Linked DNA regions of Homo sapiens. The protein of the gene in region 1 interacts with the protein of each later gene in a pairwise test. Each region holds a gene or a part of one and is shown on either strand. Other genes may lie near its edges.

Region 1 (7,763 bases):
AGGCTGGTCTCGAACTCCTGACCTCAGGTGATCTGCCCAATTTGGCCTCCCAAAGTGCTGGGATTACAGGTGTGAGCCACCGCACCCAGTCTGTTCCAAATTTAAATATACTTTCCCCTTTTTGAGAGAAGGAAATGTGTGCATTGTGGAATTCCAAAAACACTGCTTAAGAGATGTATGGGAGCTGAGGGAACAGGCAGAAAGAGATGAGTTTAGATCATCCCAGAGGCAGAAGGAGAAGCAGCAGCTGGAAACAAACAGGAGAAAGCCTCCATGGTCTTTTTGTTTGTTTGTTTTTGTTTTTGTTTTGAGACAGAGTCTCACTCTGTCACCCAGGCTGGAGTACAGTGGCGCCATCTTGGCTCACTGCAACCTCCGCTTCCTGGGTTTCATGTGATTCTCTGCCTCAGCCTCCCAAGTAGCTGGGATTACAGGCGCCCGCCACCATGCCCGGCTAATTTTTGTATTTTTAATAGAGATGAGGTTTCACCATCTTGGCCAGGCTGGTCTTGAACTCCTGACCTCGTGATCCACCCACCTTGGCCTCCCAAAGTGCTGGGATTACAGGTGTGAGCCACCTCACCCAGCCTGAAACTACTTCTAAATTTTAAAAAGAACTGTGGATGGCTGGGCGTGGTGGCTCACACCTGTAATCCCAGCACTTTGGGAGGCCAAGGCTGGTGGATCACCTGAGATCAGAAGTTCGAGACCAGCCTGGCCTACATGGTGAAACCCTGTCTCTACTAAAAACACAAAACATTAGCCAGGCATGGTGGTGGGTGTCTGTAATCCCAGCTACTGGGAGGCTGAGGCAGAAGAATCGCTTGAACCCGGGAGGGGGAGGTTGCAACAAGCTGAGATCGTGCCACTGCACTCTAGCCTGGGCAACAAGAATGAAACTCTGTCTCAAAAAAAAAAAAAAAAAAATTGCGAGGCAAGGTGGGGGATGCCTGTAATCCCAGCTCAGAAGAATCGTTTGAACCTGGGAGGCAGAGGTTGCAGTGAGCCAAGATCACGCCAATGCACTCCAGCCTGGGTAACAGAGCAAGACTCTGTCTCAAAACAAACAAACAAAAGAAATAGTTTCAGATAATCTTCTGTTTTCTTCTTGCAAAGAAATGACTTCATCAGAACTTCTTTTAGAAGCTTCTAAGTATCATTGAAAAATAGCTCTCTCAGTTTTTAAATTTTAGATGCAGATTTTTCCTATTGAGTGCATAAACTAGTTACTTTAAAGGCGCCCCATTTTAGCTATTATAGTCTGGGGTCTTCACGGGTTAAGTGAGACCATGTTTCTAGATACTGACAGAAGGTGGCACCATAAGCATTGTCCACGAATCCAGCTGCCGTCTCTGCAGATGCATGTCTGCTCTAGAAGCACAAGTGTCCATAATTTAGATTTTCCTTCTGAATGACCAAAAATGCCTAAGGGGAGGAATTTTGGTCACTAAAGAAGAAAATGGCCAAGCGCGGTGACTCACGCCTGTAATCCCAGCACTTTGGAAGGCCGAGGCAGGGGGATCACGAGGTCAGGAGTTCAAGATCAGCTTGGCCAAGATGGTGAAACCCCAACTCTACTAAAAATACAAAAAATTAGCAGGGCATGGTGGCAGGCGCCTCTAATCCCAGCTACTTAGAAGGCTGAGGCAGAGAACTGCCTGAACTGAGGAGGCAGAGGTTGCAGTGAGCCGAGATCATGCCACTGCACTCCAGCCTGGGCGACAGAGCGAGACTCTGTCTCAAAAAAAAAAAAAAAAAAAAAAAAAAGAAGAAGAAGAAGAATGTTTAGATTTGTCAGTTGAACCAAGTTTCAGAATATGGCCAGTTTTAAAGATGACACTTTCTCCTTGACCAAATTTCGAATGAGAGAAAAGGCTGCAAACTGTAAAAAGACAAGCAAAACCTCAGACAGAAGTGAAAATCACAAATCTGCAGTCAACAGAATCTCTAGAGAATAAAAATGGAAACTCCTACCTTTCAGTGGAGCTTCAGTTCTAACCCTATCAAATTATTAGTGTGTAAGTCTCAATCTTCAACTAAGCTGGGAGGATTCAGATCCCAAGACTGGCCTTACCAGAGACCCCTGCCAGCCCCAGTGAGGTCGAGTAAACAACAGTCGTTTGTGCTGGTACCAAGGCTCCAACTATTGATGCCACTACTTAGTGGCAATCCCTGAAGGCCTGCTTCAGGTCCTATCTGGGTTGCCAAAATGTCAACCTCAAATAATGAAATTCAGGAAATATGATTAAGTATAGAGTTTATTTGAGCCCAAAGCTTGAGGATGGCTCCCTGGGCACATGCCCCTAGGTTGCCCTGAACATATGTTCCCATTAGCAGCAGTCACAGTGGGGTTTTAAGGAAAAGGAAGAGGCAGTCCCTAAGTTGTTAGCAAGAATTTGCATTAAAATAACAGAAGGTGCTGATTGGCTATGCATCGTTCTTAGCATCACTAATTCCATGTGAACAAGAAGATAATGGGTGAGGCAGCCTGTCAGGAGCAAAAATTCCATCAAACAATTGCCCTGGACAGTTGCTTCTATGGTGGAAGAGGCGCTGAATGAAGTCCCACACTCCTGCCTCTCTGGGCCTGATCATTCTGCACACCTCACAGAGCTCAGACTACCCTATTTTTCTTTTCTCAGGAAAAATGGGTGGATGGTACTGGTGGCCCTGCCTGGTCTGATCATCTACCCTGGTTCTAGTAACCAGATTAATTCCTTGTAATAGAGCTGTGGATTTCAGTTCAGTTCCCACGCACAGACCTTACCTCTGCTTTCTCCGACCACTTCTCCCCCACCCCAGGTACTTCACAGCTGAGAGCCTCTTGCCAGCTTCCAACTCTCCAGCAGTCTTTGTTCCCAGACCGTGTCCTGAGGCTGCACTTTCTGGACATGCCCACCTGCTGGACTGGCATCTGTCTTGTCACTTCTCTGGCCTCACCTCTGCGAAAGGAACACAAAAGTCAGGACCCCAGTTCACTCTGTCAAAAGGAAAAGAATGAGCTGAAAGCTGAGTCATGTAAGCAGCTGCCTTTCCTTTCGTTCCTAAGCAGACGGCTACAGATAGAAGGTTCAACATCCGCTTCTCTTATGTAAAGTGCTGATTTGCTGAGGAGTGAGCTGTACACAGTCGACTGTTCCCAACCTGCTTCTTTTCTCTTGCAACGTGTGGATTACCACACTGTTCCGCTTTCCCCTCCAGCCCACTTTTCCCCTTTAAATACTGAAGCCCTCAAAGTCATCTTTGGAGAAAGGCACAGACCACAGACTGTTTCTGTGATACCGTGTTTTTTTTCCTCCCAGGCATTGTCCTTAACCTTGGCAAAATAAACTTCTAAATTGATTGAGCCCTGTCTCAAGATACTTTTTGGTTTAAACCTCTGAGGCCCTACTGTTTCTAATACAGGTTTCCAGTTTGCTCATCTTTCCCAGGTAGGAAGATGCTCTGTTGCCAAGAGAAATGCAATTCTAACACGCAAATCCGCCCAAACACTAGAGCTCAGCATTCAGCTCTAGCCGAGCTAAGAGGATCCCATGGTCCTGCCCCACAGTCTGGGGCTCATCTTGTGGAGGAGGTAAGTAAAATAGGCCCTGTCTCTCTGACTTCTACCTAATCAGAGTTGATAGTTGCGTTGGAAATTAGGTAAATCGCAGGTGAGTTGATGAATGTGGGAAACCAGATGAAAATGGCTGCTTGATGGGGTTAAAACGCAGGAGAGGAATAGAACCCTTCCAACGGAATGGTTCCAGCCTTGTGACATGAGGAGACTGAAAGGGTATCCCAGAGGCAGGTCACTGGCCTTCCAGCTCCACCTGTGGGTGGCCTTGGCCAGGCAACTGCAAGAGTGCAGGGCCCCGGGGAGGTCGCACCTGGCAAGCGCTGAGGGAGGGTAAAGCGGAGAGGGGTGTGAGAAGAGAAAAACAACACAGAGCGTCCGAGCTATGTGAGGCGTGCGAGGTTAATCCGGCCCGGAGAGACAGGTCTATGCGGCTTCAGCGGTCCCCACCCATGCCTGGCAATTGTTTAAAGGCACTATTGCTCCGGACCCGCTGCCTTCACCCATGAACTTCCTTTCCTGGAATTATGATATAAAGAACAACGTACAGCCAATTAATAGCTTGTTATTTTCATGTAAATTCTTGGTGAGCTATTTAAGAACTGCCCCCCTCTTAAGCTTTATAAACCCACTTGTCACTGTTGCAAATCCTATGTTCAGGGCAACTTGAAGCTATGCTCCCGGGTTGCAATCTTCAAACTTGGCCCAAATAACCTCTCTACTTATATCAAGTTTGCCTCAGCTTTTTTTTTCTTCTAGGTCGACGGTTCCCGCCCCGCAAGGGTGCAGGGAAGGGGACGCCCGCACTTCCTAGTGCTCCCTTAGCTGGGGTCGAGCTGAGCGCCCCCCACCGAGCCCCAGGCGGCTCTGTGGAGAAGCCCCTCGGCCCCGGGTTCGGTCTGCACTGCCAGCCCCCAGTCCCCGGCGCGCAGGATCCAGCAGGGCCAGCGCCGGGCGGGCGAGAAGGCGAGAGAGCTAGGGCCGGGCGGGGAGGGCACCGGCAGGGGGCGCGGGTTCCCAGGACCGAAAAGGCGGAGCCTCCCACGCGCACTACGTGCTCCCTACGCGCATGCGTCCCGCCCACGCGCAGGCAGCACCTCGCCTGACTGGGTAGCGCTGCCACGTCGGGGCGGGGAAGAGCGTCGTCGCGTCCGGGTGACGTCTCCCGAGGGCGTCGGCAGGGTCGGCGGCGTCGGCAGCAGTGTCGACGGCAGCGGCGGCGGCGGGTGGGAAATGGCGGAGTATCTGGCCTCCATCTTCGGCACCGAGAAAGACAAGTGAGTGGGAGCCCCCCGCCGGGGGTTGGGCGCGATCGGGGCGCAGGGTGGTTGAGGCGGTGGGAGGGCGACCGGGGAGGCCCAGGCGGGCCGGCGCGGCGGTGGCGGGGGAGGGGCGCGCGGCGGGAAGGAGCGGTGGCCCTTCCGGCCCCTTGCGCGCCCTCCGGAGCCGCCGCCTCGTGGGCCGCGCGGCGGAAAACTGGAGCGGGCAGAATGAATGGGGTCTCTTTTCGGGGCGCCGCGGCCGAGCTTTCTCCGGCCTTGGGGTCCGGACTGGCTGATCGCCCGACGTCCGGGCCTCCGAGTCGCCGACTCCCGGAAGCCGCCTCGAGCCGCGCTGAAAGTTGCCTGGAGCATCCGGGCCTTTTGGACGTGGACACGTTTGTTCCAACTTTCGGCTGTGAATGTCCTGTCGAGCAAGCTCTGGTACCAGCCTCGCCAGTATTCAGTCGCTTATCTAACTTAGGGTCCTAAGCGTTGGTGTTTTATCCACTTAGCCAGCCTCTTGCCTGTTTAAGCGACCGCTGGGCCGGCAGTAAGGAGATATGACGAGAAAAAGTATGGTGGAGACTACTGGATTAACTATCTAACCACAAGAGACGTGATCCGCTCTTAACATACAGGTGCTCCTGGATTTACCATGGGATTGCGTTCCGATAAACCCATCATGAATCGAAAATGCCTTTAATACCCCGATAAACCCATCATCTAAGTTGAAAATTTGTAAGTCGGTGACTGTTCTTGAAGACACAATTCTGATATAAGGAAAAAGATGTTTTGATTTTTTCCTTAAGGTTGCATGCCTTCCCTAATCAATCGTTAGGTTAAAAGCAAAACATTTAATTTCAGCTTTAATTGCCACCTTGGCACGTACTAATTTCCAGTGAGTTGGCTGTAGTTTAGACTAAATGGAATGTTTTCAGACGTTTGAAGGATAATTCTTACTTTGAAAACCTAAAGACTCAGCATCTGGCTTAATCTACTCTTTAGTTATCTTGGCATTCTTCAGTGCCATACAAAGTTAACATGACTTTATGTTTTCAATGATAAACCCCTAAGTTTGTCATAGATGTTTTTAATGCCACTTTTTTCAAACGCTATTTAAAATGTTTCTCTTTTCCAGGATGGAGTCTATCTTGTAAAATGTCCTCTTCACACATGGTAGAATCTCCTGTGTTGTTTGGATGAGGAGGCTATATTTCTAGCAAAATTTTAAGCCAAAATCTACCAGTTATAGTCACTCCAGAAACATTTAGTGGGGGTCAACTATAGGTCAGTTTCTGGAGACTTAAACATGGGTAAAATTTGGATATTATCCTTAAGGAACTCACGGTATGATCTTGGCGAATGAATAGACCAGCTCTATCGGAACAAGAGACTCTTCTGAGTTTAGGGTGAAGAACTAACACATGTAGGATCGGGGCATCATTAATTTCTCCTTTTCATATTTGCATGTGGCATGACTTCTGTCTTGTAAAAGTCTATCTCCCTATATTTCTGCTATAAGCAACCACATTTCAATCTATTGGGCTATACTATAAAGGTCATGGTTTTAATTCAGAAAAGTTGATTATTTAATCTAGGTTACTTGTGTTTTCTTTTCAGGGAGACGTGGGGTTTTAGCTTCCAGGGAACAGGATCAACTCCTGAAAAATGAAGCTGATGGTTCATATTAACTTTAATTATTATTTAAGCTAAGAATAAAATATAGATCTCTACCAATTAAAAAATGTTTAGCTTATTATATGTTTGAAGTTATAGATGTTTTCTAGATTCAGGGATATCCTAATAGCTTGTCTGTAGTTTAATTGTGTGGAATAATTGGATATTAATTGTTGAGGCCCAGGGCTTGCCCATTCTGAGGTAGTTTTTAAATAAGCTTTCTTTATTTTTAGATGACTTCCTAAAGATATGCTATTGTCTAATCAAGTTAAATAATCTCAAGACCTGTAAGTTTGCAAATATATATAATCACTTTCCTCTCCTGATAAATTTGGACTTTCCCATCTTTATTGCTACCTGATAATAAATCAGTGGCTAGTCAGTCTTCATGGTCCATTAGATTTCACTGAGGTTGAGGCCCTTCAATCTTAACTCTGGATTGACTGTTTAAAACATAATGGCACTTGGTTAAAAAAAAATTGAATTTTGAACAAAGTCTGTCTGGTAAGATGTCCTAATTCATCAGAGATCGGCTTCCCTCCCTGACATTGCTGGCACACAGGCATGATTGCTGGTTCCATTGGATATGGATCTGGATTGTCAGCGTATTTGAACAGTATTAAGGGAGGGTTTTGCAGTAGAGACAGAAGGTGACGTAAGGTGGTTCCTAAGGTGGGTTCGGTCAGTCCCCTAATAGTTTGTTTTCAGTGTATTGAGACCAGGAGAATTGATTTACTTCAGACCTATTTTTTGAAACTCCCTGTTGGTCTGGTGTCATGCGTTTAGAGAGACTCTGAACTTCGTTTTCTGTTTTCCTTAGATAATGATAGCACTTCATGAGCACCATATGTGAAGCACACATACGTTCTGTCTGACTCTCAGAACAGTGCCACATTGGCATTGTCATCATTTACAGATGACATCTGAGAGCTAGGGTGACTTGCCCAAGCCCAAGCAGCTGGTAGCAGAGTTGGGATCTTAACCCTCACCACACCGGTGTTTTCAAGAGAGAACTTGGTCGTGGAGAACTGGAGAACAGATACTGCCTAAGTTACATTTAGTTTTAGACTAATTTAATACTCCATTTAAGAAACAAACAGAACAGCTGTGCAGTTAGGAAAGTGGAGGGGATTTGAATGAGGAGGAGGCGGGTTAGAGTTAGAACCGTCTTTGCTGAACAAGTAGTGTGTTTGCAGAAAGGGAAGTTGAAGTTACGTTGTCCTAAAATACAGCAAGGAAGAGGAGGTGCTTAATACCACGGAAAAAAG
Region 2 (7,289 bases), on another chromosome or scaffold:
TTAAAAAAAATTTTTGGTCGGGCGTGGTGGCTCACTCCTGTAATCCCAGCACTTTGAGAGGCCGAGGCAGGCGGATCATGAGGTCAGGAGATAGAGACCATCCTGGCTAGCACGGTGAAACCCCGTCTCTACTAAAAATACAAAAAAAAAAAAAAAAAATTAGCCGGGCGCGGTGGCGGGCGCCTGTAGTCCCAGCTCCTCAGGAGGCTGAGGCAGGAGAACGGCGTGAACCCGGGAGGCGGAGCTTGCAGTGAGCCGAGATCGTGCCACTGTACTTCCACCGGGGTGACAGAGCGAGACTTTGTCTCAAAAAAAAAAAAAAAAAAATTTTTTTTAAGAATCTTGATCTTTCTCACACTGATACATTATTTTCTTCCCACTTCCTGGAGAACAAGTCTTTTGATCTTAATTACACTTTAAATTTTTTGTTTGTTATAAAAGTATTATGTTCACTGTAGAATAGTTAGAAAATTCTGAAAAGTTTAGAGGAAAATAAAAGTCGTATGTAATCCCAGCACTTACAGATCACTTAACATTTACATATATCATTTGTAGTGAGGCGTGAGCCACTGTGCCCAGCCTACACACAGCTTTTACATAGTTGTATTACTTCTTTTGTTATATAGTGAGTTCTTCTCATATACTAGGACGTTATTTTAAAAGGAAAATAGACATTATTTTAAAAGGAAAATAGAGGCTGGGCATGGTGGCTCATGCCTGTAGTCCCTGCAAGTTGGAAGGCTGAGGCAGGAGGACAGCTTTGAGCCCCGGAGTTCAAGAACAGCCTGGGCAACAGAGTGAGACCCTGTTCCTACAATTTTTTTTTTTTTGAGATGGAGTTTCACTCTTGCTGCCCAGGCTGGAGTGCAATGGCGTGATCTTGGCTCACCGCAACCTCCACCTCCCGAGTTCAAGCAATTCTGCCTCAGCCTCCCGAGTAGCTGGGATTACACACACGCGCCACCATGCCTGGCTAATTTAGTGTTTTCCCATGTTGGTCAGGCTAGTCTCGAACTCTCGACCTCAGGTGATCCACCCGCCTCGGCCTCCCAAAGTGCTGGGATTACAGACATGAGCCACCACGCCCAGCCAAATTTTTTTTTTAATTAGTCACACAAGGTAGCACACGCCTGTGGTCCCAGCTACTAGGGAAGCTGAGGTGGGAGGAACGCTTGAACCTGGGAGGTCAAGGCTGCTATGAACTGTGATCACACCACTGTACTCCAGCCTGGGCAACACAGCAATACCTGGCCTCAAAAGAATGAATGAATGAGAAACAGATGAATAAAAACATAAAACAGCTGAAAATGATGTAATTTCTTTTTGCACGTATTTCAGCACAATTACATTAGCAGAACTAAAACCTTTTAAAACTTAAAATAGGAACTAACATAAAATCTTATCCCATTTTTCTAAATTGATTTGATTTGATTTGAAATGTTTTGGCTCCAACACTTTGGGAGGCTAGAGGTGGGCAGATCACTTGAGTCCAGGAGTTCGAGACCAGCCTGGACAATATGTTGAAATCCCATCTCTACTAAAAATACAAAAACAGCCAGGCATGGTGGCATGTGCCTGTAGTCCCAGCTACTTGAGGGGCTAAAGCTGGAGGATGGCCTGAGTCCAGGAAGTCGAGGCTGCAGTGAGCCGAGATCATGCCACTGCACTCCAGCCTGGGTAACAAAGGGAGACCCTATCTCAAAACAAACAAAAAATATTTTAACAAGTATACTGAATGAATTGTATGGTACGTGAATTGTATCTCAGTAAGGCTATTGAAAAAAAAAAATTAGCCGAGCATAGTCGCATGTGCCTACAGTCCCAGCTACTCAGGTGGCTGAGATGGAAAGATCACTTGGGTCTGGGAGGCTGAGGCTGCAATGAGCCATGATCATGCCACTGCACTCCAGCCTGGGCAACACAGTAAGACCCTGTCCCAAGAAGAAAATAAACAAAAAAAACCAGCTAGGTAGGCACAGTGATTCACATCTGTCATCCTAGTACTTTGGGAGGTCGACGCAGGAGGATCACTTGAGCCTAGGAGTTCAAGACCAGCCTGGGCAACACAGTGAGACCCTGTCTCTCAAAAAACAAAAAACTAGCCAGGCACACTTGTAGTCCTAGCTACTCGGGAGGCTAAGGCAGGGGCATCACTTGAGTCCAGGAGGTTGAGGCTGCAGTAAGCCATGATCACACCACTGCACTCCAGCCTGGGCGACAGAAGGGAGACCCTGTCTCAAAAAACAAAAAAAAAAAAGAAAAGAGTTATAGAACATTCTATAAGGATACTAACATTAATGTAAAAAATAATACACACACATCTCTGTATAATGTGTATAAACAAGATGCCTGGAGAAGAAACAGGTAAGTTAACACTGGTTGAATCTGAGAAGAGGAAGCTAGTTTGGGAAAAGTGTAGGAAAGAAACTTTTTACCATATACTCTTTTGTGAACTTGTGCATGATTACCTATTCAAAAAGTTTTTTAAATCTTATTTTTCAGTATCAATAAAGCATTCTCCATTCTACCTATCCAACCCACAGAGAAAAGACATATCAACTTACCCTCATCATACATTTGACATTAATCATGCATTGCCCTGTGATTTCTATTTATTTTTATTTTGACTCAGGGTTTTGCTCTGTTGCCCAGACTGGAATGCAGCAGTGCAATCGCAGCTCACTGCAGCCTCGACCTCCTGGGTTCAAATGATCCTCCTGCCTCAGCCTCCTGTATAGCTGGGACCACAGGTGTGTGCCACCACAGCCAGCTAATTTTTTTATTTCCAGTAGAGATGAGGTCTCACTATGTTGCCCAGGCTGTTCTTAAACTCCTGGGCTCAAGTGATCCTCCTGCCTCAGCCTCCCAAAGTGTTGGTTAGGATTATAGGCGTGAGCCACTGTGCCCAGCTTGCCCTGTGATTTCTTCTAGTTAACTGACCTTGAATTTTTTTTTTTTTTTTTTGAGACTCAGTTTCACTCTTGTCACTCAGGCTGGAGTACAGTGGCACAATCTCGGCTCACTGCAACCTCCGTCTCTCCAGTTCAAGCGATTCTCCTGCTTCAGCCTCTCCAGTAGCTGGAATTACAGGCGTGCACCACCATGCCCAGCTAATTTTGTATTTTTTAGAAGAGATGGGATTTCACCATGTTGGTCAGGCTGGTCTTGAACTCCTGACCTCAGGTGATCTTCCCGCCTCGGCCTCTCAAAGGGCTGGGATTACAGGCATGAGCTACCACACCCGGCCAAATTTTGATTAAAATATTTTATCAGAAATCTTTTTCACGTTGGCCAGGCGCGGTGGCTCACGCCTGTAATCCCAACACTTTGGGAGTCCGAGGCGGGCGGATCACCTGAGGTCAGGAGTTCAAGACCAGCCTGGCCAACATGGTGAAACTCTGTCTCTACTAAAAATACAAAAATTAGCCAGACGTGGTGGCAGGCACCTGTAATCCCAGCTACTCGGGAGGCTGAGGCAGGAGAAGGGCTTGAGCCCGGGAGGCAGAGGTTGCAGTGAGCCAAGCCAAGACCACGCCACTGCACTCCAGCCTGGGTGACAGAGCGAGACTCCATCCCAAAAAAAAAAAAAGAAATCATCTTTTTCATGTTATGTCAACATATAGTTTGTAAATTCTTTGAAGGCAGAGATGTTTTAGACCACCTATAACATATATGATGGGAACTCAAAATCCTTACAAGGAACCTAAGTGGTTGGTATTACAATTAGGCTTAAAGAAATTCAATAACTTGCTTAAATATCACACAGCTTGGCCAGGTGTGGTGGCTCATGCCTGTAATCCCAGCACTTTGGGAGGCTGAGGTGGGAGGATTGCTCAAAGCCAGGAGTTTGAGGCCAGCCCTGGGCAACACGGGTAGACTCTGTCTCTACAGAAAATTAAAAAATTAATACACAGTTCAGGTGTGGTGGTGTGCCCCTGTAGTCCCACCTACTGGGTGGGAGCAGGGGCTGAGGTGGATCACTTGAGTCCAGAAGACTGAAGCTGCAGTGACCCCTGATTGTGCCACTACACTCCAGCCTGGGAGAAAAAGCGAGACACTGTCTCAAAAAACAAACAAACAAACAAACAAACAAACAAACAAACCACAGCTTGTAAATAGTAGACCAATATGCCAGCTCAAGTGTCTCTGATTTATGCTCAATATTAACTGCCAAAGTCTTGGCACTTCTTTCTTTCACTCTCTCCTCCTCAGCCTCCTTGCTAGCTCTTCTTCCACTCAAACCTGTAAATATTCACTAAGATTCCTTCTTTGGGCGTCTTGTCATTCCACATATATCAAAGGCTAATTCACTTCCCGATTTCAATCAGCGGCAAAGTCTATCAGCATTATCTTTAAAATATATCCAAAATCAAACCCTTCTCACCACGGCAAATGCTACTACTCTAGTCTTTCTTTCATACAGATTATTGTCAAAATTCTTCAGCCCTTGCCTCACTATAGTTTATTCTCAACAAAGTAACAGAGTGATCTTTTGAAAATTTAAGTCAGAACATGTCACTCCTCTAGTCAAACATCATCCATTGGTTTCGTATCTCACTAAGGGTAAAAGGCTGAATCCTATCACCTAAAAGGCCCTGCAGCTTTGCCCTCCCCTACCATTACCTTATTACCATTGCTCACTCTGATAAGCCAAACTGGTCTTGTGCTATTCCTCTAACACTTTGCACATAGCTCATTCCTTCACGTCCTTCAACTCTTTTTGTAAACATCTCCTTGTTAATGACTTCCCCAGTCACTCTATTTAAAATTACAATACCCTTCCCATTGTACTCCCTATTCCTTTCTCCTATTTTTCTCTATGTGCCTTATCAATCACTATTTGACATACCATAAATTTTACTTTTTATTTTGCCTTCCCTCAGTAAAATACAAGCTCTATGAGAGCAAGGATTTTGTCTCTGTTGTTCACTGCTGTATCTTTGGCACCCACAGTAACTGGGACATGGCAGGTGCTCCATATTTTCTGAATAAATCCCAAGTCTTCATCATCAGCTTTCAGCTCTTGAGTGAAAGACCCACATTTCCAACTGACTACCTGACATGTCCAAGTGGATGTCCCACAGACACCTAAGCCTCAAAATGAACTTACCTCTTCTGTGCAAAACTGGCTTCTCCTCCTCCCAACCCAGACTAAAGGTATCACTACCCAAACCCTGGAGTCATCTTTCATTTTTCCCATATCTAACTGATCTATAAATACTTGAAATTCTACTACATCCTAAATGTCTTTCAAATTCATTCCCATTCTTTTGAAGTCTTGACATGCTTATTCACTCAACAAATCGTTATTGAGCACCTACTGTATTATCAAGTATTATCTTGGATACAGGGAAATAATCATGAGCAAAACATAAGAGTCCTTCCCATTCCGAGCTTACAATCTTGCAGAGAACAAACCAATCAATGATCAGATAGCGTTTAGCTGATTTTTTTTTTTTGAGACGGAGTCTCACTCTGTTGCCCAGGCTGGAGTGCAATGGCGCGATCTCGGCTCCTGCAACCTCCGCCTCCTGGGTTCAAGTGATTCTCCTGTCTCAGCCTCCCGAGTAGCTGGGATTACAAGTGCGCGCCACCAGGCCCAGCTACTTTTGGTATTTTTAGTAGAGATGGGGTTTCACCATATTGGTCAGGCTGGTCTCAAACTCCTGACCTCGTGATCTGCCCACCTTGGCCTCCCAAAGTGCTGGGATTACAGGCATGAGCCACCGTGCCCGGCATGTTTAGCTGATTTTTTAAGAACACACAGGGTCTTATGAAATTATATAAAAAGTGGCCTGACCATGTTTGTGGATAGAACATAGAAAGCTTCCTTGGGTAAATAATATTTGAGTGAAACACCTGAAAGGGGTGTAGTAATTAATTAGATAAACGTGTTAGGGAGGAAGGGCAGCCGGAGTACTACAGCCGAAAGAAAACTCCAATTGCAGCATATGTGAAGGTTCTAGGTTGAGGTAAGAGGGAGAAGCAGTGTGCAATGATTAGAACATGAATTTTGGACACAGGCTGCCTGGAATTTTTTTTTTTTTTTTTTTTTTGAGACGGAGTTTCACTTTTGTTGCCCAGGCTGGAGTGCAATGGTGCCATATCGGCTCACCGCAACCTCCACCTACGCGGTTCAAGTGATTCTCCTGCCTCAGCCCCCCGAGTAGCTGGGATTACAGGCATGTGCCATCACGCCCAGCTAATTTTGTATTTTTAATAGTGACGGGGTTTCTCCATGTTGGTCAGGCTGGTCTCGAACTCTCGACCTCAGGTGATCCGCCTGCCTCGGCCTCCCAAAGTACTGGGATTACAAGCGTGAGCCACTGCACCCAGCCTGCTTGGATTTAATATACAACATTTTAGCTGTGCAACCTAAGGCAAGTTACTCAGTTACTCTCTCTGAGCTATGGTTTTTCTTATTTTCAAATGAGGATAATACAGGTATTTACCTTACAGGGTTATTATGAGAATTAAATCAGTTAGTGTATGTAAATGGCTTCAAACAGTGCTTTGCCACATAACAAATGCTAAGTGTTGGCAATTGATGAAGCATTCTGAAGAAATTAAATAAAATAAGGCCACAGTAGTTGAAGAGTTAGTAACTATGCTGGAGAGACGGGCAGGGATATAATTTAAAGGTTTTAAGCAGGGGAATGACTCCTATAATAAATATCTAAGTGGTGAAATCGCTCCCCCTACAAATCCCATCCGCCAAGAGAATACAAGCTGATCACATCAAGCTCCTCCTTTCAAACTTCCAAAGGCTCCCAGCCCTACTTCTTACATGACAAAGGCCAGAAGTCCTTACATAACTTAGAAAGCCCTTTTCAATATCACTCTGATTTACCTTTATAGTTTACCTATTTTCCTTTCCAAACTATCTTCAACTACCAATATATTTCCTCACTTCACTTTTCAATACAAATGTCTCACTATTCTCAACACTCTGACACTACTATCACTTTCTCCTCTCCTCTGCAATAGTTCCTTTTCTAATGTTTGACTGGATATCTGATACTGTTACAGTTCAAGCCATTTTCATCCACAGTTCAATCTCTCTTTCCAAATGTGTTAGTATGGGCCAGGAGTGGTGGCTCATGCCTATAATCCCAGCACTTTGGGAGGCCAAGGCAAGAGGATCACCTGAGGTCAGTCAAGTCCAGCCGGACCAATAACATGGTGAAACCCCATCTCTACTAAAAATACAAAAATTAGCCAGGCATGGTGGCACGTGCCTGTAATCCCAGCTACTCGGGAAGCTGAGGCACGGGAATTGCTTGAACCTG
Region 3 (7,289 bases), on another chromosome or scaffold:
TCCATTCACTGCACCATATAGAGTCCCTTTTCTGTGGAGCCATCTGAGTCATTTTTCATAGAATTAAAAACCTGAAATAGCTGCTCTTCTGAGCAACTGGTTCAATTCTTATCTTTTTTTTGTTAATAATGTAGTAAATGAGGGAGTAATTTTCCTCTTTGCTTTGTCTGTCAGGGAGCTCAGACGTCATATTTGCAGCTTACCTCCATAGCAACTTTACAGAATGGTAGGACGTACTTTTGGGACTGTCTCCTGACTTAATTTTATATTTCTTTCCTTAATTTTTCTTTTAGCCTGATTTGCTCTTCTATTTATGTCACTCTATCATGTTGAATATTTTCATCAGTTGCCTTGTCTCATTTTTTGGAATGGACCAGTCTTGAGATGACCAGCTAAATAAGCAACTGTTTTTTGATTGTATAGTTGCAAAAGAGGAACAATCAAGCTCCTATTGGGAATTTCTTTTTGCAGAGGAAAGCTGGACTCCCTGAATTTATGGGTTGATTCGTTTGGATAGAATCTTCCGATTTCTGAGATTTCATGTCTCATTCTGCTACATTATTATTCTACATGAGGCAATCAAGCGATTACCAATAGCTATTGAAACTGGGTAGCAGAATGCAAAAATGGCCATAATTTTTCTTCTCCCAGTGTCCACATCCCCTGCAATGTGACTTTGCAGCTCCTTTCACTGAGAGGAATACCCTTGAATCTGTACTGGTCTTGTGACTTGCTATGGCTAATAGAATAGCAGAAGGGATGCTAATTACTTCCAAGCCTAGAAGCCTTGCACAATACTGTGCTCTCTCTTGGAATTCTGCCATCACCATGTGAACAAACCAAGACAGGCCTGCTGGAGGAGGAGAGACCTCATGGAGTAGAGTGATGAGTCAGCTGGGGTCTTTCAAACTCTCCAGCCCCCAGCCAACCCACCAGTCAATCAAAGGCGTATGAGTGAGCCCAATGAGATCAGAAGAACCACCCAGCTGAGCCCAGCCCAATTGCTGATCCACAGGATCAGGAACTAAGTAGCACTTGTTTTAAAGATGCTAAGTTTGGGGATAATTTTCTATGCAGAAGTTAATTGATACACATTAGCTCATTCTCATGCCAATAGCAGCAATAATAACTGATATTCATTATGTTCTGTGTACTGTTCTAAGTGCCTTATAGCCCTCAGAACAATCTTTTCTGGTAAGAATTGCTATTTCTTCATATTGCAGATGGGAAAACTCAGGTTCAGAGAAATTAACTGACTTTCCCAAGGCCACCAGCTCGAAATGGGCAAAACGAGTATTCAAACCTAAGTCCGTCTGACTTCTCTCCCCCATGGGTCAAAGGACATCTGCAATTAACTAATTTCCTAAGGAGAAAGGTGCTGCAGAGCAAAGGTCAAAACCACACTCACCTTTTTTCAGAAGAGGTGGATCGGCTTTGGGTGTACCTGGGGGAAGCCCTGGGATTTGGGGATCGGGACGAGTGACTGGAGGATCGGGTGCTGGCATAGGAGGAGCTGCGGGAACACCCTTTCATGGGTGAGCTCCGGGCTGTGGATGGGACCAAACTGGACTTCTTCACTTCGGCACATTCCAGACACGGTGACTGAAATCCCCTGCAGGTGGGAAAATGTCCATGAGCACCGACTGCCCACTACTCTGGGAGCATCTTGTTTGAATACCTCCCTACCTTGGCCTAGGCTGTGGTGCTCTCATAGAACCCTCTTTGCCCCTTTTCCCATCCTATTCTCTCTGGAAAGACTTCCCAGGCCACATATGTTAGAGGAGTAGAGACAGAAGATACCTTAAAAGTAGACAATTCAGGTTAGCATTTCCTCAAGTGTGAAACACATACCGCTGGGGCCACAGTGGAGTATTTTAGAATGTCATCAGGCATGGGCATGATGGTAAGTAACATCAGATTACATGGTGAGAAATTTATTCCCTGTCTAGTCTTTTTCTGTCCTTCTGATTACATTAATGAGGAAGCCCCCATTGGGTGCTAGTTGGTTTGTAACACCTCTCTAACACTTTGTAATCTCTCTAAGAGAGAGGAGCACACCTCAGACTCAGCCTTGGTTAGGCAACTGCAACTAGTAGGATTAAATCCATTGTTTTAATCATATGTGTTTTTATAGGTACCTTTTATTTAGGACATGTGATTCTTTTTTTGAGACAGAGTCTCACTCTGTTACCCAGGCTGTAGTGCAGTGGCTGACTGCAACCTCTGCCTTCAGGGGTCAAGCAATTCTCCTGCCTCAGCCTCCCGAGTAGCTGAGATTACAGGTGCATGCCACCACACCCAGCCAATTTTTGTATTTTTAGTAGAGATGGGGTTTCACTATGTTGGCCAGACTGGTCTCAAACTCCTGACCTCAAATGATCCACCCGCCTTGGCCTCCCAAAGTGCTGGGATTACAGATGTGAGCCCCTGTGCCCGGCCAAGGACATTTGATTCTAATTTTCTATTTCAGATAGTACTGTAATTTTCCTTTTACTTATATATTAAAAATGAGTTTATTAAAGTAAACAGGAATATCAGTAGTACATGGATATGGTAAAAATCAAGATGACCTGTTGTTGGTTTAGTTTTGGGAAATTTTGATGTAACCCATTTTGCAGTTGGAGGAATTGAGACCTCCCAAAAGACAGAGGCTTCAGGATTATCAGAAGGCTAGAGTGCTGTCTTCTGTACTCCCACCCTGCCTAGGGCCAGGCTGACCTCTGTTAGGTGCTCAGTGAAGGCATATTTATTTGGATTGGGCCAAGAATCAAGTTCAAATCACATTAATATGGTTTTCAAGGCTCACGATGGCCTGGCACCTGCTCACCCCTCCAATCTCAGGTCTTGACTCTTTCCTCTCCTGACTCCAGCTGTCATAGACTACTTATTCCTCCTGAAATATCCCTATTCTCTTCCTTGTCTCCAGGCCTCAGAACATTCTGGCTGTCTGCAAACCCTCTCCATTCCCTCTTCATCTGGCAACTCCTACTTATGATTCTGGCTTTAGCTTGACCTCACCCTTTCTGGAAAACCTTCCTTGACACCCCCGTCCCCTGTCTGGGTTGGGCGACCTCCAGTGTGTTACCACAGACCTTAGTTCTATGTTTTGCCTATCCCTATATGGCTTACTTAGTCTTATACTTGTAGGCTGTCTCTTCTGTCCCAGATATTGAGCTCCCTGGAGACAGCTCCCTGGGGACCTTTTCAATGTTCTGAGAATTTCACAAGCATCATTTCATTCCCAACAACCTTCTGAAGCCGACATCATTATTTATTTATTTTTTGAGACAGTCTCGCTCTGTCGCCAGGCTGGAGTGCAGTGACGTGATCTTGGCTGACTGCAACCTCCGCCTCCCAGGTTCAAGCGATTCTCCTGCCTCAGCCTCCCGAGTGGCTGGGACTGCAGGTGCGCACCACCACACTCAGCTAGTTTTTGCATTTTTAGTAGAAATGGGGTTTCACCATGTTGGCCAGGATGGCTTTGATCTCTTGACCTCGTGATCCACCTGCCTTGGCCTCCCAAAGTGCTGGGATTACAGGCATGAGCCACTGCGCCCAGCTGCCAATGCTATTATTACCCCCAGATTTACAGAGAAGTCTCAGAAGGGTTTGTTATTTCCTCAAAACCACCCAGAGCCCCAAACCTTGATCTGTGCAGCTCCAGAGTCCCCACCCCTCCCACCTCACCAGCTCCCTACCTTCAGTGTCTATGGTTCCTTTGATTTAGAGCTGATGTCTCTTCCACTCAGCCCATATTTATTGAGCCCTCTCTGCTCATAAGTGGCATGACATAAACAGTCATGGACTCAACCATCATTTATATTTCAAAGTGAAAGGCTGGGTCTAAATTACTTAATTTGGCTGTCCATGGAGATCAAATTAAACAGGTAACTGCTAGATGTCTCTCAGGCTTTAGTTCCTGTTTGGGGGACATATTTGTATTTGAATTCTGGTGCTGCCACTTATTAACTGAGTTTCTCAACCACTCTGAGCCTCAGTTTCCCCATCAGGTAAAAAAGGGTTACAAATAGTACTGTCCTATAAAGGTTTTGAGGAGCTCGGGAAGATTATTTCTGGAAAGCATTTGGCAGTGTACCTAGCATGTGATTTGGGCTCAACGAATATGAACTGCCGTTATTATTGTTGTTGTTATTGCTATTTCAATTTTTCCTGCATAATAGCACTGCTGTATATCAGTAAACATGTGTCCTCCTCCTCCCTTCTGGGAACTTCACTGCCTGTTCTTGGAGACACTGACATTGGCTCTGGCCCAGCTCAGGTTCTCAGTCAAGCTTGGGTGTGAGCTGAGGCCAGGGATGACCTGGGGCAGGCAAATGGGAAGGCAGTTCTGCATGTGGATGTCAAGCTGTTTGTCCAGGACTGAAATGGGGTATGTGTTAGGGACAAAGAGTGCTCTGTCTTTGAAGAAGCTGTTAGCTGCTTCAGTGCTAAGGCGTTAGTCATCTTTTGAAAATTTTGGCTATATGGAACAAAGGCAAACTCCCACCCTCAGAAGTAGAAAAACCTCACTGTTAGCATGACAGAGGGCACCAGCAAAGCTTTTCCACCCATCCCGCAACTGTGCATCTGCCTCATTAATTATAAGCTCCTGAGAAAAAGGACTGTTCCATTTTTAAATCCCCAGCACCAGGCTGAGTGTCTGGCAGAGAGGACTTGCCTGATAAACAAGTTGAGGAATAAACAACAGAATGAATGGTACAGACTAAGTGATCAGTAAATTTTAGTAGCTATTATGATGACAGTAACCTCAGTGATTAGCATTTTGTTGTGATTTCTTGAGTGAGAGAGTTAAGCGGATGACGAAGTAGAATTACAACTGGCTCATATGCATCTGTGTGGAAGAGTTTTCTGCAGGAAAACTGCATCTAGTGAGTGTGTTAAGATGGGTAAAAAAATGGAGAAATCTCAATGTTCTCTGATATGTTGATAAATTATACTATGGTATATCTGTATCTATAATTAATAAACTTTATTTTTTAGAGCAGTTTTAGTTTCATAGCATGATTGAATGGAAAGCACAGGGAGCTCCCATATACTTCTTGCTGCTACACACGCACAGCCTTATTCCCCACTATCAGCATCCTCCACCAACGTGGTCCATTTGCTACAATCGATGAACCTCCATTGACACATCATTATCACCCAGAGTCTATAGTTTACATCAGAGTACCCTCTTGGTGTTATACATTCTATGGATTTGGACAAATGTATAATGACAGTTATCCACCATTGTAGTGTCACACAGAGTAGTTCCATTGCCCTAAAAATCCTCTGTGCTCTGCCTATTCATCCCTCTGTCCCCTCACCCTCTGGCAACCACTTATCTTTGTACTTTCTCCATAGTTTTGCCTTTTCCAGAATGTCATACAGTTGGAGCCATGCAGTGTGTGACCTTTTCACATTGGCTTCTTTCACTTAGTAATATGCATTTACATTTCCTCCATGTCTTTTCATAGCGTGGTACCTCATACCTTCCGAGCACTGAATAGCATTCCATTGTCTGGACGTATCATAATTTATGTATTCATTCACGTACTGAAGGATATTCTGGTTGCTTCCAAGTTTTAGCAATTACAAATAAAGCTGTTGTAACATCCAAGTGCAGGTTTTTATGTAGAGATAAGTTTTCAATTCATTTGGGTAAATACTGTGATATGTTCTTTTTTTTTTTTGAGATGGAGTCTGGCTCTGTCACCCAGGCTGGAGTGCACTGGCGCAATCTCGGCTCACTGCAAGCTCCACCTCCCAGGTTTATGCCATTCTCCTGCCTCAGCCTCCCAAGTAGCTGGGACTACAGGCGCCCGCCACTATGCCTGGCTAAATTTTTGTATTTTTAGTAGAGACGGGGTTTCACTGTGTTAGCCAGGATGGTCTCGATCTCCTGACCTCGTGATCCACCCGCCTCGGCCTCCCAAAGTGCTGGGATTACAGGCGTGAGCCACCGCACCTGGCCTGTGATATGTTCTTAAATGACTTACAATTAATTTAATGTTAGACTTTCTTTCATTTTTTTTTTCTTTTGAGATGGAGTTTCACTCTTGTTGCCCAGGCTGGAGTGCAATGGTACAATCTCAGCTCACTGCCACCTCCGCCTCCAGGGTTCAAGCAATTTTCCTGCCTCAGCCTCCCGAGTAGCTGGGATTACAGGCATGTACCACCACACCCGGCTAATTTTGTATTTCTAGTAGAGACAGGGTTTCTCCATGTTGGTCACGCCGGTCTCGAACTCCTGACCTCAGGTGATCCACCCGCCTCGGCCTCCCAAAGTGCTGGGATTACAGGTGTGAGCCACCACGCCTGGTCAATGTTCGACTTCCTTCTAAGATTACTGGTAAAATTGTCATCTGTTTTTTTGCCTGCCTAGCCTCCATCTCTCCTGATACCAATAACCTGGCTTTTCCTGTAGAGGAGTGTGGGAAGGTTCGACTCATTAGCCCTAGTGATGGCATCTGACACATTCTGGCCAACAGCATAGCATCCCCTGGGACAGTGATGGGCAGATGACCTAAGCTGGGCCAAACAGAACCAATAAGCACCTGCCTTGGTGTTTGGCTGAAATCTTTGAGAAAGAAGCATTGTTTTCCTGTTGGCTGGCTAAACCAATAGAATGTTAGCTGCTTGGCATATTTGACAATGCTTTGGGAGGATCTGCTTGAGAATAAGGCCAGTAGGATGAGGAAGCAGAATAAGAGATGTAATGAGAAAGACGGATTTCCAGCAACATATTTTTGAACCCCTGAATCCAGCTGTACCTGAAGCTAGTGCCACTAGTGTTTTAAAACAAGCCAGTCTGAGTTGAGTTTCATCTCTCTTACAAATAAAATAATCTTGGGGGTGGAGTGGGGGAGGCTGGGATGAGAGCATGAGAAGGTGGAGCTAAGGTGGGAGACCGTCTACCCCCGACCCTGTGTGGTGCACTGACCTTGACTCTCTGCCCCTGCTGGTGGGGGAGAGATTCTCCAACATGGCCCCCTTGTTCTGGGGTGAGGAGGTGGTGAAGGAGTTCCCTGAATCAGAGGTGTTGCCACTGTTGAGCTCCCGGCTCTTGCTCAAGCCCCCACTGGGGCTCCCCTTCTCCTGGCCCCGAGACCTGGCTGAGCTGGTTTGCGTGGAGGGTGGCGAGGACGTGTCATTTCCTGAGTCGTACTCCTGGGAACGTCCTCGCGAGGTGGTGAGCGGGCTGGCTGTTTTGGTAAAGAGGTCAGCAGCAGACCCCGACCCAGTGATCTGAAAGCAAAAAGACCCGTTGGACACTGCTGAGCGCTGGG
Region 4 (7,289 bases), on another chromosome or scaffold:
TTCAGGATGAGAGGGCCTTACCAAAAGGAGATTTCTTCCCTCCTGAGCGTCCACAACAACTTCCCCGTAAGTGTTTCAGTGATTAGGGCTGAGAGTTTGAATTGGAGTTACACTAATAAACAGAAAATTACCATATGGTTTCACTTGAACCTGTGCCAGGTTAGCCCTCAGTTCTCTTGGCCAGTTCTTTTCTATAGATTTTTCAGGGTGAGAAATGAGCAGAGATTCACAACTTGAGGATATTGTTAGGATTACCTCATGGTAATCCTAGGATTGTAATACCAGGATGTAGAGGATGTGGTTAGGCATTTTGAAAGTGTCCTGGGGAAGGAAGAATCAGAACCTGTGAAGGGAATGAAAACCAGGCTGCACTCTAATTCAGAAGATACTGGTTAGTCCCATGTGGGCTAGCAGTGCACACTAGACATCTGCACAGAAATTCGCACGCAGATGTTTGCAGCAGGATGAAAGACACATGCTGCAGTGTGGATGAACCTCGATTTCATCTACAGGAAATGCTCCGCATAGATAAATGCATAAAGGCAGAAAGTAGATTAGTGGTTGCCTGAGGCCGGGAAGGAGTAAGTAGGGACGGGACTGCTAATAAGGTTGGATTTCTTTTTTGGGTGATGAAAATGTTCTGGAATTAAATGGTAGTGATAGTTGCATATCTCTGAATATACTAAAAACCACCGAATACTTTGAGTTTTATGGTATGTGAAGTGTCTTGAACAAATAATTTGTATGCAGAGGGGAAAGGGATCAGCTATTTGTGACACCCAGGTGAAAATCTGTCTCGTGACAGGGAAGGCTAGTTGATGGGCTACCACATAGGTAGAAGTGGCAAATATTAGTGCAGAGTCATAGATAAGCCAGAGGCTGGAAGCAAGAACCTCAGTGCATACAGCGGTGGGACGACTCAGGGAATCACTGGCGCAGGTAAAGCTCTCCTGGAGAAGAAAGATGGATGAGGGTGAGAGGCCTGTGTGTGCTGTGCTGGGGTGACCTCCACCAGGCGGGTTGAGGGGGCCTGGTCTGGAGCAGCAGCTCAAGCTCAGGGCCCTACTCACTGAGTTGGATGGGAGCCCAGGCCAGAGCACCTTTGCAGCGTAGCATTATGGCAGCATGACAGATGTATCTTGAAGGGAAATCTGTGGCTTCATGAGAAGGCTCATCTGTTGAAAGGCAACATTAGTTAGAGAAGGATTGCATTTCCTGGACATAACATACTCATTTCCCAAATAAATTGTCAGTGTGCTCACCTGAGCAGTGGTCACCCTGGACCATGGCGATGGCTCTTGTTGACTCTTGTGCTGGAGCAGGAGGAGGAGCACACTGCTCCAGGGAGCCTGTTATCCATGGCTCTTGGTCTCCCGGCCATTTCGGAGGCTTGACTTCAAAGCCTTCAGTGCTTTGGGAGAGTAAGTCACCGTGGCGATCTCTTGCTGCTGTTGCTATGCAATTAAAGATGGAATGTTCATCAGATGAAACGCCTGGGAAGTGGTGGCAGGTTTTATTTACTTTTTAAATGAACTTTGTTTGCTTTCTTTCCTTCCTTTCTTCCTTTTTCTTTCTTTTTGATGGAGTCTCGCTCTGTCGCCCAGGCTGGAGTGCAGTGGTGCGGTCTTGGCTTGCTGCAACCTCCATTTCCTGGGTTCTAGTGATTCTCCTGTCAGCCTTCCAAGTAGCAGCGATTACAGGCATGTGCCACCATGCCAGGCTAATTTTTTTTTTTTTTTAGTAGAGATGGGGTTTTGCCATGTTGGCCAGGATGGTCTCGAACTCCTGACCTCACGTGATCCACCCGCCTTGGCCTCCCAAAGTGCTGGGATTTCAGGCGTGAGCCACTGCGCCTGCCCTTGTTACGATTTTTAAAAGCTTACCTGGTTGTAGTTTAAGCCTCAGATGGTGGTTACCCCAGATATTGCAAGTGTCAGCTCTTTTGGCTGTTTCCAGAGACCAGCCTGTATTTCTGTGTCCCTGTCTGTGTTGGTAGGGCATGGAGTTGAGTGTGGGCTGGGTATCCAGTTGTGGGTTGGGAAGCTTTGGGGGAAGGAAGATAGGTTCTTTGAATACATACATTAGCTTCATTGTTACTAAAACCACCCAGATTCAGAGAGTAGTGGACACCCAGGATGTTGATTGGCTGGTTTGTAACGTGTTTTTTCATGAGAAACATCCTTTGGGCTACTAGGGATTGGGCACATTTGTGCTGCTTGCCACCTGATGTCTTGAGTCACCTTTTTTGATCAGACAGTTCTCAGTCCATGGGTTAGTGAAACAAATAGGCTCTCAAGAATCTTAGTGTGGGGGTTGTTAACTTTCCCGTGTTGGTTTTCAGCCGCCTTTGTTGTATACACACATATCCCAAACGCCGGAACAAGGCTCTGTTTCCAAGTGTGCCGATGTTGAATTTTGCATTGGGCCCTGAGGTCACTGGTGGGTGGGGGTGGGTAGGCTGAAGTGGATAGCTGCAACTCACTAAACACTCTTTTCCTTTGAGGGTCAAGGTTTGCTAAATAGGGGAAAACTAAGCTTCTTTCTCTTTTCTTTCCAGATGGCCTTGGTGGTATTGGCATGGGGTTAGGACCAGGAGGGCAACCCATTGATGCCAATCACCTGAATAAAGGCATCGGAATGGGAAACATAGGTCCCGCAGGTGAGAATGACAGTGCACCTTGCTTGGTGGTTTGGGGAAGTGAAAATTATTAATTATTGGGACAACTGGACTTTGAGTAGTTTAAATGGAATAAATATTTAACTGGGACAAAATTCCCTCCTTATTCATCTCTGCCTCATTTTGAATAAAGGCAGTATTTTGTATTTTTATCAAGTTGAGTCATTTTTTAAAAAGTCATTATGCTTTTTCATTGTAACCTGACAACAACCTTCTAAGCTGAAATAGTTGTGCCATTTGATAAGAGGAGGCAAGCCAGAGAGTTGATCTTGCTCAAGGTCACACTGTCAGTTACTGACAGGCTGCAGGTCTCCTGACCACGGGACCATAGCACTGCCGCAGTGCCCTGAAAAGTGTCTTACCAAGACCCCTTTGGGCCCTCCTGGTGTTTGCACAGCTGCTGCTAGAGAGCTAGGGGCATTGATAGATGCAAAAAAGGTGGAGAGGCCAGGCACGGTGGCTCACGCCTGTAATCCCAGCACTTTGGGAGGCCGAGGTGGGCGGATCACAAGGTCAGGAGTTTGAGACCATCCTGGCCAACATGGTGAAACCCCATCTCTACTAAAAATAAAACAATTAGCCGGGCGTGGTGGCGCACGCCTGTAATCCCAGTTACTCAAGAGGCTGAGGCAGGAGAATTGCTTGAACCCGGGAGGCGGAGGTTGCAGTGAGCTGAGATCACATGACTGCACTTCAGCCTGGCAACAGAGCGAGAGTCCGTCTCCAGAAAAAAAAAAAAAAAAAAAACCTGCATGAAAGCTTTGATGTGTAGAATAAACTCAGGCTTTGCTGTTTAGCATTTTCATTGCTGTGTAATGATGTATTTTGATTCTATTAAGGAATATGTCATTTTTATGACCTTAGACTTTGGTCTTTGTTGGAATCCTTTGAAATTGGAATATGGAAGCCCCTCTATCCCACCATTGTCAGTGTTGCATATCCCTAGACTCTCTTCCAGAGTCACCCTGGGGCTGACTTAAATTCTGGGCCACAACTTCAAATGGCTGTTAACGTTTCCCCCGACCCAAAACACACACACCCCATGTCTGACATCTAAACAGAAAGACTGGGGGTTGGGGAGGAAGTCTTGGTGTTTTTAGGAACTGGTTTTTATTTTGAAGATTTTACCTTTAACAGGGATTGATTTATTGAGACGGAATTTTGCTCTTGTTGCCCAGGCTGGAGTGCAGTGGCTCAATCTCAGCTTACCGCACTCAATCTCTGCCTCCTGGGTTCAAGTGATTCTCCTGCCTCAGCCTCCCAAGTAGCTGGGATTACAGGCATGTGCCACCACACCCAGCTAATTTTTTGTATTTAGTAGAGACAGGGTTTCACCATGTTGGTCAGGCCGGGCTGGAACTCCTGACCTCAGGTGATCCACCCGCCTCGGCTTCCTGAAGTGCTGGGATTACAGGCGTGAGTCACCACGCCCACCCTTAACAGGGATTCTTAAAAAAAATCTACTTCTGTTCCCTAAAATTTTCTAAAAAGTTTATGTTCCATAGAATGTGTCTTATAATTCTATTTCATGTTTAATACTGCCTAACTTGAGGCCTGGTGTGGTGGCTTATGCCTGTAATCCCAGCAATTTGGAGGCCGAGGGTTTGAGACTAGTCTAGGCGACATAGACTCCATCTCTACAAAATATAAAAAAAATCAGCCAGGTGTGGTGGCGTAGTCCCAGCTACTTGGGAGGCTGAGGCAAGAGGATCACTTGAGCCTGGGATGTTGAGGCTGTAGGGAGCTGTGACCATGCCACTGCATTCCAGCCCCAGTGACAGAAGGAGACCCTGTCTCAAAAACAAAAAAAACACAAAAACCCTGCCCGACTGGGTCATTAAAGTATGTAGATCCCTCAGAAAAAGATTAGCCAGGCGTGGTAGCAGGCGCCTGTAATCTCAGCTAGTCGGGAGGCTGAGGCAGGAGAATTGCTTGAACCCGGGAGGTGGAGGTTGCAGTGAGCCAAGATTGTGCCATTGCATTCCAGCCTGGGTGACAGAGCAATACTGTGTTTAAAAAAAAAAAAAATAGCTATATGATATTTGACAGTTGAAATGGTAAGGGCTTTTTTTCTTGCTGATTAAAATATATAAAATATACTTGTCATCAGGGATTTTCTTTTGAGTTCTTTTGCTGGTTTGGAATTATGCTTTTTAAGTTCAAACGTTATTTACTGCTTTGACATAATTTTAGTTTGCATTGACTTTTTCTTTTTAAGGAATGGGAATGGAAGGCATAGGATTTGGAATAAATAAAATGGGAGGTAAGAAATTTAAAATGAAGTACAAGCATAATCACTTTTAGGCATAGTTTTCTCTCTTTCCTCTTTTCTTTCTTGTTTAAACCCTGCATGAAATTCTCTTTGGTTTCAGTTTGAGTCTAGAAATGACTTCCTCCTGCCTGTCCATCCTTCCAGCGGGTGTCTTGGCTTTTGGTTCTGGCTGTCTCACTAACTAGCTCTGTGACCTTGGGCAGACCACTCCATCTCTATGCCTCTTTTTGCTTGTCTATTCATTGAGGGGGTTGGATCAGACCAGCTTTTTGAAGATGGGTGATTTTTAAACAAGGGTGCTAGCATTTTTTTTGTTTTTCAAAAGCCTTTAAACTTGGTAAGTTCTTGGCAGAAGATACCCCAGTTGAAACATGTGATAGAATTTTTCTTTCCCTGCTTAGTCTAAGCAGTCTTGTTGGATGATGCTGAAATGTGAACCTCTCTTGCAGGAATGGAGGGGCCCTTTGGTGGTGGTATGGAAAACATGGGTCGATTTGGATCTGGGATGAACATGGGCAGGATAAATGGTAAGCATCGTGTTTTCTTCCTGCTTTCACTCACCCTTTGCCGGCTGTTGCCTCTCAGGTGACTTTTAGGCTGCAGACCCACTGAATAAGTGGTTTCTCACTTCTGCTTTTCAACCGAATCAAATGTCTTTTGAATTGCCTTAAATATTTCAAAAACTAGACATAATAGTAGACTTACTTCACTTGGTCGCTAGTCTTTTGAGATGTCCTGTGTTCCCAAGCTCTGCAGTAATTTTCGAGTACAGTGTTAAAAAGCATGTACACGTTCGTGGTTATGGTCTCCGAGTATGAGGGATTCTTTAAAGTTTGTAATCAAGTTTGTCTCTGGGAGTGCTGCAAAGGGTTGTTCTTGGTCATCTGCCCCAGCTACAAGTTGTCTATAGAGGCGTTAATAAAAATCACAGGCTCTTTTAATTTAGCATTTACATAATGCAAATTCTGGTTTAGTATAATTCAAATCCTCCACCAACTTTTTTTTTTTTTTTTTTGAGACAGGGTCTCACTCTGTCACCTAGGCTGGAGTGCAATGGTGCGATCTTGGCTCACTGCAACCTCCGCCTCCCAGGTTCAAGTGATTCTCCTGCCCCAGCCTCCTGAGTAGCTGGTATTACAGGTGTGTGCCACCATGCCTGGATAATTTTTATATGTTTAGTAGAGTCGGAGTTTCACCATGTTGGCCAGGCTGGCCTCGAACTCCTGACTTCATGTGATCCGCCCGCCTCAGCCTCCCAAAGTGCTGGGATTACAGGCGTGAGCCACCGTGCTCGGCACCTGCCCCCAACTTTTTAGCAGAAATATAATAATATAATAACAATGTAGTATTTCATTTAGTCCTTGTGAGAACCACATGATATGTACATACTGCTATCCTTGTTTCATCTGAAACTGAGGCACAGAGAGTGACATGCCTAGGTCAAGTGACTGGTAAACAGTGGTGCCTGCATGTGAACCCAGGCTGTCTGGCTCCAGAGCCTGGCACTTCATCATGTGGGAATCCTGCCTTTTAGAAGTGCCTCCAGCACAGCACTTGGCCCAGGGCACCAGCAGGGCTGTAGAGTGTGCATGAGAAATTGTAAATTTTCCTTTTTGAAATCCTTTATGTGTTGGTGACTCTTTGACCTTCCCCTTCACTGCAGGAAAGCTGCTGCTTTTTTACACAGAAACTTTCTTGGACTGAGAAGTCATTAGGGATTTAGGTATAAACCTTCCTTTGCGGGTCTGCCATAACAAAGGATGTGAAAATGGTACAAGGACAGACATCATTGTCAGGCTTGAAAGGCGGCTGTCCCTGATGATCAGGCCCTTCTTCCGGTGCACAGGGAGCAGTGGGGCATGATGTGTGTTGCCCTCTTCATGGGTGCCTTGTTCTAGAAGCTGGTAAAAGGATGTAGGAAAGTTGTCACCATTAGTAATAAAGCAACAGAGGTCTGCGTTTCCAGTGTACATTCAAGCTTGCCTGTAACTTGTGTGTGCATGGGATTTTAATTTTTAAAAAAAGTTTCAGAAATCTGGCTTGGTAAAATGTTACTCAGAGCAGATTAGTCTGGGTGTGCTGGCTCACGCCTGTAATCCCAACACTTTGGGAGGCTGGGGTAAGAGGATTGCTTGAGCTCAGGAGTTCAAGATCAGCCTAGGCAACACTGCGAAACCCCATCTCTCTCTTTTTTTTTTTTTTTTTTTTTTTTAAGAACAGATTAGTCATTAGGGAATTTGAGTTGTTGCTGTGAGGAGTAGAGTGATGCAGTTTAGAAGTAGATGGAAATCAGGATGGGTTGGCCTGGGAGCTGTGCTGAGCCGTGTGACACAGTCGATG

Evidence for each region.
Region 2: the proteins of U2AF1 (region 1) and SARNP interact in binary tests that used the Homo sapiens proteins (3 or more experiments, as listed by UniProt).
Region 3: the proteins of U2AF1 (region 1) and SRRM4 interact in binary tests that used the Homo sapiens proteins (3 or more experiments, as listed by UniProt).
Region 4: the proteins of U2AF1 (region 1) and HNRNPM come close enough for resonance energy transfer, tested with the Homo sapiens proteins (one study listed by BioGRID).

Annotation. Positions count from the first base shown.
Region 1 is NC_000021.9:43,104,521-43,112,283, reverse strand, and holds the start of U2AF1 (splicing factor U2AF 35 kDa subunit), read left to right. Parts: upstream 1-4,713; 5' UTR 4,714-4,789; coding exon 4,790-4,833; intron 4,834-6,438; exon of another isoform or gene 6,439-6,498; intron 6,499-6,728; exon of another isoform or gene 6,729-6,782; intron 6,783-7,763. UniProt on the Homo sapiens protein: Plays a critical role in both constitutive and enhancer-dependent splicing by mediating protein-protein interactions and protein-RNA interactions required for accurate 3'-splice site selection. Recruits U2 snRNP to the branch point.
Region 2 is NC_000012.12:55,807,506-55,814,794, forward strand, and holds part of SARNP (SAP domain-containing ribonucleoprotein), read right to left. Parts: intron 1-7,289. UniProt on the Homo sapiens protein: Binds both single-stranded and double-stranded DNA with higher affinity for the single-stranded form. Specifically binds to scaffold/matrix attachment region DNA. Also binds single-stranded RNA. Enhances RNA unwinding activity of DDX39A.
Region 3 is NC_000012.12:119,145,340-119,152,628, reverse strand, and holds part of SRRM4 (serine/arginine repetitive matrix protein 4), read right to left. Parts: intron 7,249-7,289; coding exon 6,944-7,248; intron 1,904-6,943; exon of another isoform or gene 1,804-1,903; intron 1,619-1,803; exon of another isoform or gene 1,613-1,618; coding exon 1,409-1,612; intron 1-1,408. UniProt on the Homo sapiens protein: Splicing factor specifically required for neural cell differentiation.
Region 4 is NC_000019.10:8,468,769-8,476,057, forward strand, and holds part of HNRNPM (heterogeneous nuclear ribonucleoprotein M), read left to right. Parts: intron 1-5; coding exon 6-66; intron 67-2,557; coding exon 2,558-2,659; intron 2,660-4,895; coding exon 4,896-4,940; intron 4,941-5,398; coding exon 5,399-5,476; intron 5,477-7,289. UniProt on the Homo sapiens protein: Pre-mRNA binding protein in vivo, binds avidly to poly(G) and poly(U) RNA homopolymers in vitro. Involved in splicing.